Linked DNA regions of Homo sapiens. The protein of the gene in region 1 interacts with the protein of each later gene in a pairwise test. Each region holds a gene or a part of one and is shown in the gene's direction. Other genes may lie near its edges.

Region 1 (7,089 bases):
TTTTCTCATCTGTAAAATGGGAACTTCAATCATCATGGCTATCATTTGGTTGTGGATGAGAAGTAAATGAAGTGCTGAGTGTTAACTGTTGCCTCAGAAGAAACTGGGAGGGGGAAGTCTTAGAAGTGTTTCAACATAATAAAAGCTCTCTCATTCTGAAATGTGGGCAAATTTCAGGGATTGATAGATCCTAGCAAACTGTGTCCCTGGTTCCCGTGCTTGAGATCTTATACAGGACTTGAACCAGGTAAGCTGCTACAGGATATTGGGCAGAATGCAGGACCAGGAAGCAAGAAAACTGAGTCTGCCACAGACAAACCAAGTGATCTTGAGCAGGCAACTTCTCCTTTGGGGACCTCAGTTTCCTCATATCTAAAATAAGGGTGACCTGGATAAACATTCAGGTCACTTCCAGCCTTGACATTCTATGACTACCTATATCTCAGGGTGTTTAGGGCACATGCCTTTGGGTAGATAGCATGTGGAAATTGTTACTATTCCCCATGCTCCTGTCCACACTACTCACCAAATATGAGATATCCGGGAAGAATGGAGGGTATAGATTTTTTTTTTCAATTAGATAATTTAGTTTTATATATTTGGGGGGACAAGTGCAGGTTTCTTACATGCATATATTGCATGCATAGAGGTGAAGTCTGGGCTTTTTTTAGTGTGCGCATCGCCCAAATAGTGAACATCATACCCAATAGGTAGTTTTTCAACCCTCACCCTCCTCCCACCTTCTCACCTTTCATAGTCTCCGATGTCTTTTATTCCACTCTATATGTCCATGTATACCCATTATTTAGCTCCCACTTATAAATGAGAATATGCCATATTTGACTTTGTTTCTGAGTTATTTCACCGAGGATAATGGCCTCCAGTTCCACCCATGTTGCTGGAAAACACATGATTTCATTCTTTTTTATGGCTGAGTAGTATTCCACTGTGTGTGTGTGTGTTGGGCGATGATAATGATGTCCATTGCTGTGTGACAGCTTGGAATTTAATTTATTAAAGTCAAGTTGGAGTTTATAAACTGCATTTTCTTTATCACTCACTACATTAACTACGTTTTCTTTATCCAATCCTCCATTGATGGACACATCGATTTGGTTGATTTTTATGTAGTGAAATGTTCAATTCTAAGTCATGAAAATTCAAAGAGATTTTTCAAGCTGTTTCCCCAGTCTAAGAAATGTAACTCTTAGTGGTTCACAGAGGAACAGTTTTTCTACCAGTATGACACGACAACCAAACACAGTGAACTTGTGATTGCACAAGAAACTTTTGTTGATGGGAGAACAGGTATTCAGAGTTCTACAGGACCTGGGGAATGAGTAGATGGTAACTGGAATCTGTATTGAGCTTCCAGTACTGAGCTGCCCAGAGTTCCATGGAATCACATATTTTAGTGAAGAAGAGCCTGATCACGTTTCAAAAATAGGGAATTTTTAAATGAATGAAAAAAATACGAAACATATTTTCATCAACTTAATCCATTTCACACTTTCAGAAGGGATCCACAGCTTTTAATGAGTATGAATTATGCTTTCAGTTTTTGTGGCAGCTTTTAAAGAACAAATCTCAGGATATGTCTGAATTACCCAGCCAAAATTGTGGCTTGTTTTCAAGAGAAGCAGATTGAGATAGAAGTAAACTATGCTAGACAGAATGACACTGCTTTAAATTTTGGAAACATATATATGGATCCCAGAGCAATCCTGAAATTTTTGCTCTGTAACCTATGTTTGAGTTTACACAGCTCTGTGAATGAACTTTTTCTTCATAAAATTGCTAAATAAAGCTAAAAGCTATTTTCAGTGGTGTAAATCTGAATTAAAATGAGGATGGCATTTCATGAAGTACTACTATATGCATTTTTGAATGAATAAAGTTGGTAAGATATATTTTGTTACTTTTGAATTACATTTTTTAAAACGCTTTTTTTTTTTTTTTGAGACAGAGTCTCTCTCTGTTGCCCGGGCTGGAGTGCAGTGGAGTGATCTTGGCTCACTGCAACCTCTGCCTCTCAGGTTCAAGCGATTTTCCTGCCTCAGCCTCCTGAGTAGCTGGCACTACAGGCACCCACCACCACACCTGGCTAATTTTTGTATTTTTTGTAGAGATGGGGTTTCGCCATGTTGGCCAGGCTGGTTTCGAATTCCTGACCTCATGATCCGCCCGCCTCGGCCTCCCAAAGTGCTGGGATTACAGGCATGAGCCACCGCGCCCTGCAAAACCCTATTTTAAAATAGGGACCAAGTTATAACTCACTGTTGTTAAAACCAAAATTTATGCACAAGTATGACTTTACTATCTTAATGGCATTTTAAATTTTATTTTATATATATTGAACATTTAATGTGTTTTCTGATTGTACAAATTATATAGGTTTATTTTTAGATTAGAAGATACAGAAAACTACAATGCAATAAAATATCAGTCTTAACCAACTTTATTAAGGTATATTATTTAACAAGTATGTCTTGAACCCTTACTGAGTTTCAGCCACTGGGCTAAGTGAGTGATGGGTTTTTTGTTTTATTTTGTTTTTTGTTTTGTTTTGAGACAGAGTCTTGCTCTGTTGCCCAGGCTGGTGTGCAGTGGTGCCATCTCAGCTCACTGCAACCTGTGCCTCCTGGGTTCAAGCGATTCTCCTGCCTCAGCCTCCCGAGTAGCTGAGATTATAGGCGCCCGCCACGATGCCCAGCTAGTTTTTGTATTTTTAGTAGAGACGGGGTTTCCCCATGTTGGCCAGGCTGGTCTTGAGCTCCTGACCTCATGTGATCCACTCGCCTCGGCCTCCCAAAGTGCTGGGATCACAGGCGTGAGCCACGACACCCGGCCCACTGATGGAGTTATAAAGGTGAAGAACTAGTCTAGTGAAGAATGCAGACTGAGAGTAAACAGACAAATACAATGTGACTGAGCTGTATTGTTAAATACAAGAAAGGACTATCAGGAAGACTTTTTGGAAAAAGAAGCATCTACACTGAGACCATAAAAATTAGTAGGAGTCAGTCAAATAAATGTGGGAGGAGGAGAAAGGGATTATTCCAGGTAAAGAAAACAAGTTCAAGGCTTGAGAGGTAAAAGGTGGCTTGGTGTGGTGGAAAAGGTGAAAGAAATTTGCGACTGGAGAGCAAGAAATATGGTCGAGAAGGACTAAAAAAAAGTAGACAGGGAGAGCCCAGATGCTGAAGGGTCTAGAAAACCTCAGTATGGTTTTGGAGCTTTGCCCTGAAAGCAATAGAATGCCTTTGAATTGTCTGAAGCAGATGGTAACTTGATCAGGTCTGCTTTTTGCAAAGTGGAGAATGCTTTGGAAGGAAGCAAGTGTGCACGCAGCGGGACCCATTAGACTAATGTATAAATCCTGCCTGGAGGTCATCACTGGACAGGGGAGGTGGGGGAGGCGGTGAAGATAAACAAAAGGGGATAAATTTGAAATATCCTGTTTTAAAAGGAGGTAGAATCCACAGAACTTGGCAATGGATTGGATGTGAGAAGTGAGAGGAATCAGTGATGACTGCCAGCTTTCTGACCTGAACGAGTGGATGAAGGGAAGCCGAGTTTTGGGGGGAAAGAGAAACATATAATACCAACATTTAAAACATAATAAGACTAAGAGGCTGAAGGAAAGGGTAGAACCTTCAATCTGAGCCGAGCGGGGCCGACAGCGCTGGGCAGCATCCCACGCCTTTTTCTCCGCGAGGCCCACGCAACCAGCCAACTAAAGCGAAGAACCACGTGAGGGAGACCCCACTGCGCACCAGGCGCGAGCCCTGCGCATGCCCGTTGGGTCCCGGAGGCCGAGCCTGCGCAGTTAGGGGAACTCAGGCCCATAGGCTCCCCGCCTTTGCGTTGCCCTGAGCAGCGAGGCGCGGTCACGTGCTACCTTTTGCACGTATCCTGTCGCCCCTCTGTCCGCCCGGGACGCCTAGCCCCACCCACTGTTCCCGCCCCTTCCGTGTTTTGGTGCGCACGGGTTCCGCCAGACACAGCTACCATTGGCTGTCAGTCGGATCCGAGAACGACGATTGGCTTTCCTTGACCGTCCCTCAAGCGCCTCTCCGGAGATGGTCTGAGGTGGGAGAAGAGCTGAAGAGACCTGGAGCCGACAGACGGTAAGCTGGGGTATGTGCTCTGCAGGGGCTGCAGGAGGCCAAGCTCTTCCCGAGCCACCTCGGCGAGTATTCTTGCCGCTTGGCCACGCTGGTCTGCCCTGGTCCGGTCCCCTCACCCCGACTGGAACCTCCCTGCTTTCTAGTCTAGGGGCTTCGCTGCGGCTGAGACTCGGTCGCCGCCACGCCTTAGCGTGAAGGATTCCGGGAAGCCTGCGGGACTGCGAGTGGAGAGGTTTTGCCCAACGGGACGGTCTCCTTCCTTCTGTCCAAATTCTACCTGTCCTTCGAGGCGTGGTGCGGGCCCCACTGCTTAGGGGAGACTTCCTTTTCGCCTGACCGCGGAGGTGTCTCTCTGTCCTGGTCTCCCTCATCGGGTACTTTGTTTCGGTCGTTGTCTTCACGTATCAGTCTTATCTTTTTGGCCAAATTATGAGTTCTTAGGCGTTTAGGACCCTTTTTTTCTTGAATACCACAGTTCATTCATTGTCTTGCGTTACAGTATATGCCCTCTTAAGTGTTAAGAGGGTAGAGTGAAGATCATGCCCCTATCTCCTCAGAGTAGAAACAAGAGACACAGAAAGAGAAATTAAAGAAGACAGGAGGACAGTCAGAGAGCGTCAGGGAGTTTTGCCTAGGTTTCAGATCATTCTGTATCGCCAGCTAGCTTGCCTCCTTGGACTTACCCACCAGTCTAACAGCAGGTGTATGTTTAGAATATTTGTGCTCGGCACAGTGTAGGGACACGGGCAGGTGTGATATGGTTTCTGCTCAGAAGCTTCTTATAGTCCAATTGGGTAAACGAGACTAGAACACATAAAACGACCATGGCAACATGAAAATAGGGTTGAAGTTTTATGGTGTCAGCTGTGCCAGCCATAGAACTAAGGAGCAAGAGTAGATTCAGGGATGGGGTAGTTTAGGAAGGCTTCCCGGAATGTGATTATCTCCTGATATTTATTGAGTACCTGGGGTGTGCAAAGCTCTGTGCTGAATCTGAGAATGAGAAGTGAATAAGTGATGGCCACTGTCCTGAGAAACTCCTAGTCTAGGGGAAACAAGTTTCATTGCATTGATAGCAAAGATGTGTGTGGATGCCGTGGGCAAGAGATGGGATATGCCAGCTGTACCTGGATGAATTGGGAAGGGGGTCATCAAAGAGAAGACTTTGGGGTTTGAAAGGCGAATAGAAGTTGCATAGGTAGGCCTGTCGCGGTGGCTCACACCTGTAATCCCAGCACTTTGTGAGGCCGAGGCGGGCGGATCACTTGAGGTCAGGAGTTTGGGACCAGCCTGACCAACATGGCAAGACCTCGTCTCTACTAATACTACAAAAATTAGCTGGGCGTGGTGGTGCGTGCTTATAGTCCCAGCTATAATACTTCGGAGGCTAAGTCACGAGAATCGCTTGAACCTGGGAGGCGGAGGTTGCAGTGAGCCCAGATCACAGCACTGCACTCCAGCCTGGGCGACAGAGCAAGACTCCATCTCCAAAAAAAAAAAAAAAAAAAAAAAGAACTTGCGTAGGCAGAGAGTTTTAGGAGAATGTAGAGTATTCAGAGACAAAGATGATTGAATCAGAGGAAGAGGGAATGAAGTATGGGTGAGGAAGCCAGAGAACAGCATCATGTGGGAGAAAGAGCATGATCTTTGGATTGGAATGAGGGTGCTCTTACATCAGATGAAGTGTAGAGAGGACTCACCACAGGGCTGACACACTGTAGCTTCTCAATAGATGTTCGTTTCCCTACCTAGAACTGGAGAAGTAAAATTGAGACCACTTTGAGAAGAGCCTTGCATTTCATACTGTAATAGTCAGAGGAGGTGTGGGATTTTATGACTTTTGAAGCTTTTTTCTACTTTTCTTACCACAACATTATAAAAGCAGTCAATATTCAATATTTCTTTCTTCTTTTTTTTTTTTTTGACAGGGTCTGGGTCTGCCGCCCAGGATGGAGTACAATGGTGTGATCTTGGCTCTTTGCAACCTCTGCCTCCTGGGCTCAAGCCTTCCTCCCACCTGAACCTCCCAAGTAGCGGGACTGCAGGTGCATGCTACCACATCGGCTGTTTTTTTTTTTTTTTTTTTTTTTTTGAGATTGAATCTTGCTCTGTCACTAGGCTGGAGTGCAATGGTGCGATCTCGGCTCACTGCAACCTCTGTCTCCCGGGTTCAAGTGATTCCCCTGCCTCAGCCTCCATAGTAGCTGGGACTACAGGCGTGTGCCACCATACCTAGCTAATTTTTTGTATTTGGCCAGGATGGTCTCAATCTCCTGACCTTGTGATCCCCTCGCCTCGGCCTCCCAAAGTGCTGGGATTACAGGCATAAGCCACTGCGCCCGGCTGATTTTTGTATTTTTAGTAGAGACGGAATTTTGCCATGTTGCCCAGGCTGGTCACAAACTCCTGAGCTCAAGCCATTTGCTCACCTCAGCCTCCCAAAGTGCTAAGATCGTGAGCCACTGCACTCGGCCCAGCAGTCAATATTTGTAATAGGGATTCACTAGTAGTCTGTGAGCAGCTCAGCAACCCTATATGCACCCCAGAGTGTTAAGGATGACTGGATTCTTCTCTGAGGAGGAGAAAAGGCTATGTAGGTACAGTAGGTATAGTGGGTTCAGAAAAGCCTGTATTGGGGGCATGAAGGATCTTCTGTTTTTTCGTATTTTCTGTTTTTTTTCCTTTTAGTATTCAGTAAAGGCCTTTTTTCAGAGTTCCCACCTGTCTCAGGTAGGCCAGAGAGAGCAACATGGTGGGGTCAGCAAGAATCCGTGAGAATTCCTGAGGAGAAGGTGACACTCAGGAGACAGAGCCAAGGCCGGCTAGTGTCCTCTCTCTAGCAGAAATTTTGCTTGCAACGTCACCCTCTGTTCTGTGTTTCGTTTATTCTTTAATTGTTACTCAAAGTATGCTTCTGGAACTGCTTGCATCACAACTGGGGTGCTGAGTTAAAAGGGCA
Region 2 (7,181 bases), on another chromosome or scaffold:
TGCACTCCAGCCTGGGTGACAGAGCAAGACTTCGTCTAAAAAAAAAAACAAAAAAAAACAAAAAAACCATAAACAATATAGGAGTGTCATAGGATTATAAATAGATGGCATGGATAATAAAATCTACAAGTTTAGAGAAAATTCGTAATTATAGGTGAGAAGTATTAATGAAAGGACAAAGCTTGTTCTTAAAGGATCAGAATAGGCCAAGATGAAAAAAGGCATCCATGGGAAAAGAACTGTTCATTTCTATAATTTTAACAAAATAGATAATCTATGTTGAATAAAATCCATAAATACTATTTCCAAATTTGATTAAGGTATTTACTTTGAAAACCTGAAACAGGAACATATTTACAGTGTTAAGTGATTTGATAATTTTGTAGTTCTGCCCTAAAAATCAATATCCTTAATTAACCCTTCATCAGTTTCTTAAGTCATCTGTCATCCTGAAAGCAAGTTAATTATTCTAAATGTTAAATAATTTTGGTAGTGTCTAATCTATAAAACATACATACACTACCAGTTTTTTTTCTACCTTTAACAAATTCGTTCCCATAAAAGACAATTTTATCACTAACAAAGGATAACTGGCAGGCATAAAATAGTGAGTAGAAAATGATTTTCTAAAATTTTTCATTTCTATCATTTTATAGCAAGTTGCATTTATCTTAAAGATAAATATTCTTCAATAAAAATAACAATTCAAATTTTTCAGTTGTAGAAATTCCTGGTGATGACATTTGATACAAATAGTTTATCCCTGAAATCCATTTAAAATTTTTAATCAAATCTTCTGCAATTCATTGATCAAGAATACATACGAGACTATCCAGGGATATTTCTAGCAAAGAAAACTGAGTCATGCAACTCAGTTCTTGAAGCAAGGAGGCAATTTAAAGTCAGAATAAAGGTTTACTGGGCTATCCTCAATGGACAAGTGGAGGATGTAAGTCACCTGATTTGGAACATAAAAGACTTAAAAATGTAAGAGCAAAACAAATGGATGGTATTGGGAAAAATAATTATTAAGAAAAAAAAACCCAAGACAATGAAATGAAGAAAACACTAATATTAGATTAACAGATTCTATGTAAGATCTCAACTTGGATACTTAAATTTATGCAAGCAAAATACCATTTGATTTAATAGAGAAATACTGTGATATGAATTGAAACAATTTCTTTGATTCTATAACCTGGAAAAAAAATGGTATAAACTATATACAAGTTAAAACCCTCAAAGGCAGTGTTGTTTTCATTCACTGCCATGCATGAGATGTCTAGCATAAAGCTAATTAGCGCCTAATAAGTCCTCAATAAGGGAAGAAACTAAAAAAACTTAAAAATTTTAAATTAAATGACACAATAATGCCAAGACTTTCCAAAGCAGATTGACTGTAGCAGCTGCAGTTACCTGGACATGCAAAATTACTAGTTTACCAGTAACATTTAAGAAAGCAGACAAGAAGATAATTGTGCTTCTATTAGCGAATTGAAATAATGGTATTTTGAAACTGAGTGAAAAACACATTCTGAGTCATCTGTATTAACTTAAAGCTGTTCTGAAGATTAATGGGAAAAATAATAATGAATAGACGATTGGATTTACTAAACAATGTTTGATTAATTGTATTAATGGTTATAAAATACCTATCAAGGCTGTCTTTTCTTGTCCAAAAATTCAATACATGAAATATGAAAATTTGTAATACCATAGCCAAAGCCTTATTGCATAGCTTCTAGCTTACTGATATATTTACTTATTTTAATTTAAAAAGCCTGTTTTTCCAGCCACTAGGAAATAAGATTTCTCACGTTTTATAGTACTCAAAAATCATGATTAAGTATATCTAATGCTAACCTAAGTGTAAGCAAACAGCAAACTAAATGGTGAATTAAAATATCCACACCAAGCCTGACCTCAGCTTTCATTGAACCTTTTCTTCAGAAGAAAACTAAAAATAAATTTCACTAGCATTTGCTTTGCTTGACAGCATAATTGAGTAGCAACCAAAGTAGCCACATGTGGTCCTTTATGTAAGGCCTTCTAGCCTCAGAAACACACACCTTTTGAATTAGCGTGCCTGGTACCCATTTGTGCCCAATAAATACTTGCTGAATGAACTTTTCCAATAGTGCTGGATTTGCTCTGAGCCAACCAAATTCTCACTTTTAATGTATTTTGAAAGACAGAGGACGACAAGATGAAGAATGCAGTTTGAGACTCAGAAGAGCAAACATAATCGGCCCAGTATGGATATGATCATTTGATGCACTGTCCTCGGGCATGCTCATTTACAGAAGCCTAAAAACAAATTTTATCCCTCATTTGTGGGTTTCTGGTGTTGTGGAGGGCTTTCCAATGTTTAGAAGCAATATATTTTTATAGAATTCTGTAATAAACGTGTTTTAAATCTTTTATAAAGCTCTCTGTAGCATATAAGTACATATTAAAGACAGAAATGGGGGAGCATCAAGGCCCTTATAATCGCATTCATTCCTTAACCACATACTACGCATCTACTGTGTGGCATTCTAGGCGGGGGCCGTAACACCAGTGCAGAAAAACACAACCTCTTGTCCTCTTAGAGCTTACATTGCACTGGGGAAGGAGAGATAAGAAGATAAACAAGTATGGATATGTAGACTGTCCAAAGGATAAAATGAGAAGGGGGCTAGGGAACTTTCAGTTTAAAAGTAGCCGCGGAAGCACCGAGTGACACGAGCAAAATCCTGAAGGTGAAGGAGCAAGCCCTGTGGACGACGCTCAGGGAAGAGTCCTACTCGCAAGGATGCCAGGGCAGGCCCGCCCCCACCCTCAACGGCGCGCGGGGACTTCTGCCGCAGTCAAGGCTTTGGCTCACTCCCCTCAAGACGGGAAGCCATTCGCAGGGCCTAGAGAAAAGGAGTGACAGGATCTTGGCCCCCTGAGTGGCCTGAGGCAAAAGGAATAATCTAAGCAAGTTTTCCTACTTACTTTTAGCGCACTGGTACACACACAAATACACAATACAATTCATATAACACGAATTTCGTCCCGGTTGAGTAAAATTCCGCTTACCTACTGCACTTTTTACCGAAAATAGCCCCTTTTTAATTTACACAAACTTAATAGAGAACGGTGGAACAATGGTTACTTCTTGTTTTACAATTTAAAAACTACAACAACCATAGTACTGTACGTATAATCACATATTGTATTCCAGCCTTGTCCAGCGCCTCAGTTTTCCGAACCTAAAGAGGAAAACGATGTTTGAAATCAGCTGGCCGCAGGCCCGCGGGTCGCCCGCAGTCACCGGTGGCTGAGTCGGGGCCGGCGGTTCTCCCCGCGCGCTCGGCTCCACCCACACCTAGAGGGGGGCGCCCGGGCAGCCGCGGGCGAGCTTCTCGCTCGCGCAGCGTCGCCTACAGGCCTTTATCCTGACCGTTAGAGAAGAACCCAAACCTCTGCCGACAAAAAGCAAAAGCAGCGGAGACCGCGTATTTCCAGAAATAAACGCATCATCACAAACACGATTCCAATTCAATCCAGCCGACAGTCGTCTTCACCTCCAAAGGTTGCGTTCTTATTCGCAGAAATAACACGCAGTCGGGCGTAAGGTCCCGGCTCTCAAAAGGCAAGGTGTACGATCCATCCATCCACCCGGCTGCAGGGACACCATTTAAAACGGGCATCATCGCCATCGAATCGCGGGCGTCCTCTGTGGGGCCGCCCGGAGATCGGCTCCCTAAAGCTAACGACGACCTGGGACAGCCAGCGCGGCCTCCAGCCGCCGCCGTCGGCGACCTGAGAGCCCGTCCGGGCCTGAGTGCCCCCCACGCTCACGACCACCACCGAACTCGGGCCCCGCTCCTGTCGGCCTCCAGGAAAATAAAGACAGAGGAGAGCCGGCCCGCCTGTGTCGCAGGGCAAACGTCGCTCTGAAGCATCGACAATACTGGCAACATCCACAGCCGCCCTGAGGGGACGGGCGTAGAGGAGAGCTGCCGCCTCCCGGCTGCTGGGCCCGGGTGCCGCGCGGCGCGGCCGAGGACGCGAGCCCAAGTGGCGGCAGCGGCGGCTGCGGCGGTGGCGGAAGTGGAGTGGGGAAGAGGGGGTGGTTGTTAGTGTTTGGCGCCGGCGGAGGGAGTCATTCCTGCAGCTGCACTTCCGGTCGGCATTTTGTTCTGAGAGGGAGAGACGGAACGAGAGAGAGACACACACAGGGCTCCTTCCCCCCGCCCTCCCCCCCCTCCCTCCGTCGGTACCGACTCACCCGACACCACCAAGCCGCAGGGAGGGACGCCCCCGCCGACAGGAGAATTGGTTCCCGGGCCCGCGGCGATGCCCCCCCGGTAGCTCGGGCCCGTGGTCGGGTGTTTGTGAGTGTTTCTATGTGGGAGAAGGAGGAGGAGGAGGAAGAAGAAGCAACGATTTGTCTTCTCGGCTGGTCTCCCCCCGGCTCTACATGTTCCCCGCACTGAGGAGACGGAAGAGGAGCCGTAGCCACCCCCCCTCCCGGCCCGGATTATAGTCTCTCGCCACAGCGGCCTCGGCCTCCCCTTGGATTCAGACGCCGATTCGCCCAGGTAAATTCCTGCTCTTTATTTCGGCGGCGGCGGCGGCGGCGCCGGCGCCAGGTCCTCAGCGTCTCTCCTCCTCGCTCCCCTCCCCGCCGTTTCCTTAGCGGCCCCAGGTCTCTTCCACAGGCGAGTCTAGAGTTCGCTCCTCTCTGGTGGCAGCCGCCTTGGGTAGCGGTGGTTTTGTACCCTCTCCCGGCCGGCTCCGGTGGCGGGGACTGGGCTCCTGCTGGGCGGCCGGGGAGGCGTAGGCCCGGCGGAGAGTGCAGGCCGCGGGCCAGCGGAATCTACTTGAGCTCGGGGATTAGGAGAGCTCCGGGCTGAGCGGAGCGACTGCTGGTCGGTGACAGGCCTCGCCCGGGAGTGGAGCCGTAGCTAGTGGGGAGGCGGAAACAATACAACTAACAGCAAATGTGCCCTGATCGTCCCCATATTTACAACTTTCCCGGTCCGGGAGTGGGGAACGTCCCAGTGAAACAAACAACCTCCCTTCTTCCCCCTGTGACCCCATGAAGGGAGGAAGTAGTTTCAGTTAGTGAGACAAACGTAAATACTCAGACGCGGATCCAGTGGTAATTCTTTCTCTTTCTAAAACTTGTTTGGACGTTGGAAAGTTCATAAAGACTCATTTTCTTTTTTAAAGAATTAAATCGTCCACATGAATATTTAATACAGAAAAACATACTGTGGTAGACACTGCACATCTCCCCCTCCCCAAGAGCTTTTATCTTGTTGTTTTGACAGTGTGTTGTTGCACATGGACTTTTTATTCAAAGACAAGTATAAAGTACTTGACAGGTTTACTCTGCCACTTTCTATTTGTATGCGTTATGTAAGGGCAGTTTTAAGCGACTATACGTAAAACACTCAGGTACTTCCTGACCAAAACGTGTAGGAGCATACAAAGAATTTTAAGTGTTCTGAGAATTGTGCTGAGATACGGGTAAAACCACTTTTCTTTTCTTTTTCCAAAAAAGAAATTAAGTTATACTTAAAATCCTTGGGAGGTTAAAAAATTGTAGAAGGTGCCATCCTTTTATGTCAGGGCAGTTCTTCTTGAGGTCCCAGGATTGTCATTGGCTGTTTGTGCCATGATGTTTGACTGTGTAATGAGAGAGGTGTCATTTTAATAGGTTAAATGTATCTGTAAATGCTGGAGAAAAATATCAGTTCTAACTTGACAAGTTCTAGTTCATGAGTAAGTTAAGTGTTTCGAGCTTGTTTATGGAGGCGTTCATAATGTAGGTTGGTATAAGGGGGAAACACCAATTTAAAATTCCTCAGTCAGGCAAATTGCTAGAAAAGTGTACCTGGGTTACACGTTTTGATATTTTGTTTCATATTCGCTGAAGGAAAACTTTCATTGGTTAAAATGAAGCAGCACTGCTCAGCGAAATCCCTTGTTTTACTAGTGTTTGTTACATTGGTTCATATTTTTTGTGTCATTAAATTATTGTCACTGTAGAATAAGTTATTTTGTGGAGGTTATTTTTGAGTTTAGCGTCCTGATTACAATAAATTGTTTCACATTTCCTGCAAACGTACGGATAAATGTTTAAAAGAATGAAGTTAATATAGCTGTCACGTACTAGGCATGTTTTTAATGCTATAAATCCGTGTAGTAGTCAGTAGCGTGTCCGTGATTTGTATTGGTCAGGGAGCAGTTTGAATTTTAAAAAGCCTGAAGCTCCTGCTGAGCCCCAATCCCGGCCTCCCTCCCTCCCACTAATCTCCCATTCCTGTCTTTGTGCTGCCTGCTCCTGTTAGACACTGTTTGCTACGGGGCCTCAGGCCTACTGCGGGTGGGGGGGTGTGCGAGTGGGGGGCATGCCAGGGAGGGAATGCAGACGGGAGGAATACTTCACATCTTAAGAAAGCAGAGGGTTTGTTTTTTTGGGGATGGAGGTGGTAAGGGCTTCATTATAAATGTTTAAAAGGCCTTCATATATTCCTGTGATTGTCTCTACAACTTTTATTTCAAGGGATAAACATATTTTTACTAAAGATAATAGAGGAGTTGTGCTTGCTTAATTTTCACGAACTGAAGCAACTTATTTTTAGAGGTTGTCTTATGCAGATGTTTGAATAAGTGTGTTAGAGATGGGTTTATGTGATTGATTCTTTTTTTTCCTGAGACTTTGGAATTGTTATAGTGAATTAGTTCTTCCCAACTTATTTTCCCAATTCTACATATTTAGTAATTTGTGAGTAATATAGGTTGTGTGATAGCTTTCATTATGATAGCATAAACATTTCTTTAAATTTAAAAATATGTTTTGTTTGGTCCAAACCAATTAAATACGTCATTTTTAAAGGAGAAAACATTGTGTAAAATTCAAATTGTAAAATTTAAACTTGAACTTTAAATCTCTGATAACCTAGTTGGAGAGAATAGTTTGTTTCCCTAAAGAGTGTAGAGTGTTCTGCTTCCCCTCTGTTGGTTGGAATATTCACTAGTGGCTAATCATCTATTTCCATTAAAAATTAAAATTCAGTGAAAGGAGAAATCAGAAGTGTTCCAGTAACCTTATAATCCTAGTTATATTATTTGGAGAAATATTTTCTCATACACCTAAAGGAAATTTCAACAATGTCGCTTATTGTTTCTCTTAACTCTGA
Region 3 (7,032 bases), about 11 Mb from region 1:
GGAATATATTCACCAAAGTTCTTACCTCTAAGAAGTAGGATTAGGAAACACCTATCTAGTTTTGTTTTAATTTGTTTTAAATGAGCATGTCATTGGAAATTTTCTTGGAGTGGGGGAATGCTACTACATAAAAAGTCAGAAATAGTCGAGTGTCTGCTAATTATTTTGCTGGTATTAAATCATATTATTCACGCTGAGTACAGTGGCCCACATCTATAATCCCAGTGCTCTGGGAGGCTGAGGCAAGAAGATCACTTGAGCCCAAGAGTTCTGGACTACCCTGGGCAAGGTAGCAACCCCATCTCTATCAAAAATAATAATAATAATAAAATAAGCTGGGCATAGTGGTGCACTTGTAGTCCCAGCTACTCAAGAGGCTGAGGCAGGAGCATCAGTTGAGCCCAGGAATTTCAGGTTATAGTGAGCTACAGTGACTCTACCACTGTACCACTACACTCCAGCCTGAGCAAAAGAGTGAGACCCTGTCTTATATATATATAATATGTAAATATATATAAATTCAGTTAGAATCATGCCTTCACGCCACTCCTTTCTTGCAGAGTGAAATTCACATGTCTGAAGAAGCTATACAGGACATATTGGAACAGACAGAATCAGACCCAGCATTTCAGGCACTCTTTGATCTCTTTGACTATGGTAAGGAGACTATTTATTTCAAGACAGAAAAAAAAGGCTTCTACAATTTCTTTGGTAACTTAACCAGAGTGAATCAACATTCCCCAGAGTATCTAAAAAAGTTCTTGTTTTCATTTCATCAAACATTATATGGATATGTTAAAGGAGTGTTTGTTGTTTTGTTTTTAGCTGAGAAACTTTAGCTGTTAAAGTGGAGAGTAGTTTTGTTTTTTATTTTTGTGGCATTTTTGCCAGTCATCAGGGAATGTGTTGATGTCTACCACTATACAAATGTGTTAAACACAATTGAATCGTACAAAGGGAATACAAAAAATTGGCCATTGTCCTCAATCTTATGATTTAGTGCAGTAGTTCTCAAAGTATAGTCCCCCAAACCAACAATCTCAGCATTATCTGAGAACTCGTTAGAAAATGCAAATTACTGGGCTAAAGTTTAAGAAACACCTGTCTAGTGGGAAAATCTTTGTACTTGTAAATGATATTAAAAGCAACATTTTTTAAACATCCATAAAACCCTAAATCGAAGTTTAACATTTGCGTAATCACCAACAAGCTGTATTCATTGATGTTTATTTTTTGTTTTGGTCATTTAATTATTTCCATATTCCCTTTTTAACAGGCAAAACAAAGAATAATAAAAATATATCACAAAGTATTTCCAGTCAACCTATGGAATCCAATCCCAGTATAGTCTTAGCAGATGAAACTAATCTAGCAGTTAAAGGTTCTTTTGAAACAGAAGAATCTGGTAAGAATTTAATTTTGTTAATATCATCAATCCAAATCTTAATATTAGTCTCAAAATTCAAAGGCAGAAAATATTAATTTGGAAGTAGAAGTTGTTCAGATTGTTATAGGTCATTTTTGTATTTTTCTCTCTGTTAAAAACAATTATAAATCTTTGGTAGTTTGATTAAAAGAAAATTTACAGTATTCATTCTTTTACTATAAGCTTTTTTTGTTGGTGTGTGTTTGTTTTTTGAGACAAGGTCTCCCTCTTGTCATCCAGGCTGGAGTGCAGTGGCACAATCATAGCTCACTGCATGCAGCCTCAAACGATGCTCCCAGCACTTTGGGAAGCAGAGGTAGCATTACAGGTGTGAGCCACCACACTCAACCTCATTCCTTTATAATTCAATTCTTGACATGTACAATTTAGTATTAATGTTGTTCAGTTGCTCAAAAGTCTGTAACATTTATTTTTATTAAGGCACATGTTTTTTGTGCACCTGTTTTTAAATGTTATCACCTGCTCCCACCAGTAAAAAATCTGATGGCTTCCAGTGTTCATTCACATCCTGTCCTTGGAGAATCTCAGACTGTGTGCCTCCTTTAATTCCTCTGCCAACAATCAAGTCCAATTCTCCATTTCTTCTTAGGCTGAATTATAGTGGGTTGTGTTTTTTGCAGTATATATTATGTCTAGAAGATTGTGTTTCACTTAAGTTCTTCCCTGTACAAAGTGAAACTTGAAATTCCGTTTTCTGAGAAAGTCATCCTACTTCACTGAGGAACTACTTATCCTGAATTTATGTGGCCTCTATACAATTTCTACTGTTTTCCCCACAATAAGGATTCAGATGTGCTCTGTACTCAGCAGCAAGTGTCACATTTAACAGAATTAGAGTAGTCCCCCCTTATCTATGGGGGATATATTCCAAGCCCCCCAGTGGGTGCCTGAAATTGGGTGGTACCAAAGCCTATATAGTATTTACTGTTTTTTCCTTTTCAGGCATACCTATGGTAAAGTTTAATTTAAAGTTAGGCACAGTAAGAAATTAACAATAGCTAATAATAAAATGGGACAGTTATAACAATATACTGTAATAAAAGTTATGTGAATGTAGTCTTCCTCAAAATATCTTATTGTACTGTACTCACCTATTTTTAGGCTGGTTGACTGTAGGTAACTGAAACCACAGAAAGCAAAACTACAGATAATGGGAGACTGCTGTATATGCTAGTTGACATAAATGTTCTGGTTTTTAAAAAATATTTTTCATACTGATTCAAGTTAATGTTTTCTGTCCTAAATTGTGAATGCTGTATTGTTGTTTTCTGAAACACTTTTTCCAGGCCAGGCACAGTGGCTTATGCCTGTAATCCCAGCAATTTGGGAGGCCAGGGAGGGCAGATTACTTGAGGTCAGGAGTTCAGGACCAGCCTAGCCAACACGGTGAAACCGCGCCTCTACTAAAAATACAAAAGCTAGCCAGGTGTGGTGGCTGGCGCGCACCTGTGATCCCAGATACTCAAGAGGCTGAGGCAGGAGAATCACATGAACCCGGGAGGCAGAGGCTGCAGTGAGCTGAGAATCGCACCGCTGCACTCCAGCCTGGGCGACAGAGCAAGACTCTGTCTCAAAAAAAAAAAAAAAAGGAAATACTCTTTCCTTACTCATATCATACTCTTTTTTTTTTTTTTTTTTTAAGATCTTCTCATACAGTGCCTCCTTTATAATTTTTTCTCATGGTACCTTTTGTTCCTATGCTGTTACAGTTTTTACCATGCTTTCTTATGACTTTCTGTTCTATAGTTGGTTCCTTGACTAACCTCTCCAAGATTAGAGATTGGATCATTCATCTTTGTATCCCAGTAACCAAGTATGGTTGGTCTTCAGTAAATATGTGTTTAATGTTAAACAGTACACAATGAGATCAAGTGTCAATCATGCAAAATGTACTTGGCCCCATCTCACCTTTAAGAATATGTCAGATAAGTTGGGTGTGGTGGCTCATGCCTGTGATCCCAGCACTTTGGGAGGCCGAGACAGTAGATAAATTAAAGTCAGAAGAAATGTTAGAAGTTGAAAAGTTAGTGTTTCAAAATAAACTTCATTTTTGGAGCCAGTATGTTTTTTACCTATTGAAATATTAAACCTCTTTACTTTTTCCTTCTTTGTATCATCTGTCTTCCAAGCTTGGAAAACAAATTGACACTTGTGTAAAAAGTCATCAGTAACTAGAAAGTACCTGTAAATTTTTTGATACTCAGTAAATGGGAAACACAGCGTATCAGACTTCCACTTACTGGTATGCAAAGATGAGTTATTTTCTTGGCAAAATAAGTTTTATGGCAAAAATGACTACCTCAGAAGCTGAACATATTTACCATATCTGTCTACCTGCCTGATACTTTGCAGATGGTCAGTCTGGTCAGCCCGCTTTTTGTACATCCTATCAGAATGATGACCCATTAAATGCTTTGAAGAATAGCAACAACCATGATGTGCTTAGACAAGAAGACCAGGAAAATTTTTCCCAAATAAGTACCAGCATACAGAAAAAGGCCTTTAAAACAGCTGTACCCACTGAACAGAAGTGTGACATTGACATTACCTTTGAGTCCGTGCCTAATTTGAATGACTTTAACCAAAGAGGGAATTCTAATGCTGAATGTAATCCACATTGTGCTGAATTATACACCAATCAGATGTCCACTGAAACTGAAATGGCTATAGGGATTGAAAAGAACTCTTTGTCTTCAAATGTACCGAGTGAATCTCAGTTACAGCCTGATCAGCCTGATATACCAATAACTTCATTTGTTTCACTTGGTTGTGAAGCTAACAATGAAAACTTAATTCTCTCTGGGAAGAGTTCTCAACTTTTATCCCAAGATACTTCATTAACTGGAAAGCCATCTAAAAAAAGTCAATTTTGTGAAAATTCTAATGATACAGTAAAACTTAAAATTAATTTTCATGGTTCCAAGTCATCAGATTCTAGTGAAGTTCACAAGAGTAAAATAGAAATTAATGTGTTAGAACCAGTTATGTCACAGCTATCAAATTGCCAAGATAATTCTTGTCTTCAAAGTGAAATACTACCTGTGTCTGTTGAAAGTTCACATTTAAATGTATCTGGACAAGTAGAAATTCATCTTGGAGATTCGCTGTCTTCTACTAAACAACCATCTAATGATTCAGCATCTGTTGAGTTAAATCATACAGAAAATGAAGCTCAGGCATCCAAGTCTGAGAATTCACAGGAGCCTTCATCTTCTGTAAAAGAAGAGAATACTATTTTTCTCTCTTTAGGTGGAAATGCTAACTGTGAGAAAGTTGCACTGACGCCTCCAGAAGGCACTCCTGTAGAAAACAGTCACTCTCTTCCTCCAGAATCTGTGTGTTCTTCAGTGGGAGATTCTCACCCTGAGTCCCAAAATACTGATGATAAACCTTCTAGCAACAACTCAGCAGAGATAGATGCATCAAATATCGTCTCTCTCAAAGTTATCATTAGTGATGATCCATTTGTTTCCTCAGATACTGAACTTACCAGTGCTGTTTCTAGTATTAATGGAGAAAACCTGCCAACTATAATCTTGTCTTCTCCTACTAAATCACCTACTAAAAATGCAGAACTAGTTAAATGCCTATCTTCAGAAGAAACTGTAGGTGCTGTTGTATATGCCGAAGTAGGGGATTCAGCCTCAATGGAACAGAGTCTTTTAACATTCAAATCTGAAGACTCTGCAGTAAACAATACTCAGAATGAAGATGGCATTGCTTTTTCAGCTAATGTTACACCATGTGTTTCCAAGGATGGAGGATATATACAGTTGATGCCAGCCACAAGCACAGCTTTTGGCAATTCAAATAACATTCTGATAGCTACCTGTGTGACTGATCCAACAGCGTTAGGAACATCTGTAAGTCAGTCTAATGTAGTGGTGTTGCCTGGAAATTCTGCACCTATGACTGCTCAACCTCTACCACCTCAGTTACAGACACCACCAAGGTCAAACAGTGTATTTGCTGTCAACCAAGCTGTGTCACCAAACTTTTCACAAGGTAACTTTAATAACATAATTGAAATTTGTTTCTCTGGGTTGGGATCTAATTTCTTTTGTATGTGATGTTATTGACTGCGAAGTAATAACTAATGAGTAGATGGTATGAGAAAAGATTCTGAAATTTGTGATTACGCTGCTTCTTTATGCTAGCTAATTCAAACCTTTTTTATTTTTCTTAATCTGCTAGTAAGCTATGGGCTTTAGTGGTTTTTCTTTTTTCTTTTCACAAATACTTCTCAATCTATGTGCTAGTAAGTTACAATAAACAGAAAAGACAGACTAATTCATCACATAGTTGTATAAAACCCAATGTTGTGGGGGAGTTTTTAAAAATAGCTCTTATAGTCATGGTCTTCAGGGAATTCATCATCTTTTTGGAGAAATTTTCAAGAAAAACTTGAATTTCAGCCGGTTATGGTGGCTCACGCCTGTAATCCCAGCACTTTGGGAGGCCGAGGTGGGCCGATCGATCACCTGAGGTCAGGAGTTTGAGACCAGCCTCGAGAACATGGTGAAACCTCATTTCTACTAAAAATACAAAAAAATGAGCCAGGCATGGTGGCAGGTGCCTGTAATTACAGCTACTTGGGAGGCTGAGGCAGGAGAATCTCGTGAACCCAGGAGACAGAGGTTTCAGTGAGCCAAGATCATGCCATTGCACTTCAGCCTGGGCAACAAGAGCGAGACTCTGTCTCAAAAAAAAAAAAAAACTTGAATTTCTTCCTTTATAAAATCCTTTCTAATTGATCTCTGTCTTTAAAATCCTTTGTTTATGGCTGGGCTCAGTGGCTCATGACTGTAATCCCAGCACTTTGGGAGGCCGAGGCGGGCAGATCACCCGAGGTCAGGAGTTCAAGACCAGCCTGGCCAACATGGTGAAACCCCGTATCTACTAAAAATACAAAAATTGGCATGGTGGTGGGCACCTGTAATCCCAGCTGCTTGGGAGGCTGAGACAGAAGAATCTAAAGCTGGGAGGCAGAGGTTGCAGTGAGCCAAGATCGCACCACTGCACTTCAGCCTGGGTGACAGAGTAAGACTCTGTCTCCAAAAAAAAAAAAAAAAAAAAAAATCCTTTTTTCATAGGGGCTCTTGTGGCATTTATTGCGTGCTGTGTTATATGTAGTTAGTGATTGATATGCCTATCATATTGATAATTTTTTATTGTATGTTCCTCAGAGATAGTGCTCATGGCACATTTATTTACATTTCCTTATGTGTTGGTTCCCAAGCTTCCCTCTTTTCCCTTTTTGTTACATTATAGACATACAATAAAATTTCATTAAATATCAACAATTAGTATTAAACCTAATGGGTCTGTTTTACGTGCTGTTACAAATTACATAAAGGAGAGGTCAGAATTAATAGAGAATGTGGGGCTTGAGCTAAAGCTTAAAGAATGAAGGTAGGATTTGGAGTTAAAGCAAGGAAGTTTTTATAACTTATAAAATCTGTAAGTTATAAAGAGAAGCAGCACCAGCATAGACAGAGAGACCGTAGTAGGTTGCATGAAAATGAGGGGATCAACCTGACAGTAGTGTATTAGGCAAAAGTTTGTTTATGGACAGGACTAAATTA

The links. Proteins that work in one complex are often made in the same cells at the same time.
Region 2: the proteins of HINFP (region 1) and NIPBL interact in a two-hybrid assay, tested with the Homo sapiens proteins (one study listed by BioGRID).
Region 3: the proteins of HINFP (region 1) and NPAT interact in a two-hybrid assay, tested with the Homo sapiens proteins (2 studies listed by BioGRID).

Annotation. Positions count from the first base shown.
Region 1 is NC_000011.10:119,117,510-119,124,598, forward strand, and holds the start of HINFP (histone H4 transcription factor), read left to right. Parts: upstream 1-4,070; 5' UTR 4,071-4,130; exon of another isoform or gene 4,131-4,140; intron 4,141-4,273; exon of another isoform or gene 4,274-4,504; intron 4,505-6,058; exon of another isoform or gene 6,059-6,175; intron 6,176-7,089. UniProt on the Homo sapiens protein: Transcriptional repressor that binds to the consensus sequence 5'-CGGACGTT-3' and to the RB1 promoter. Transcriptional activator that promotes histone H4 gene transcription at the G1/S phase transition in conjunction with NPAT.
Region 2 is NC_000005.10:36,872,608-36,879,788, forward strand, and holds the start of NIPBL (nipped-B-like protein), read left to right. Parts: upstream 1-4,161; 5' UTR 4,162-4,571; intron 4,572-7,181. UniProt on the Homo sapiens protein: Plays an important role in the loading of the cohesin complex on to DNA. Forms a heterodimeric complex (also known as cohesin loading complex) with MAU2/SCC4 which mediates the loading of the cohesin complex onto chromatin.
Region 3 is NC_000011.10:108,170,619-108,177,650, reverse strand, and holds part of NPAT (protein NPAT), read left to right. Parts: intron 1-560; coding exon 561-657; intron 658-1,276; coding exon 1,277-1,405; intron 1,406-3,799; coding exon 3,800-5,452; intron 5,453-7,032. UniProt on the Homo sapiens protein: Required for progression through the G1 and S phases of the cell cycle and for S phase entry. Activates transcription of the histone H2A, histone H2B, histone H3 and histone H4 genes in conjunction with MIZF.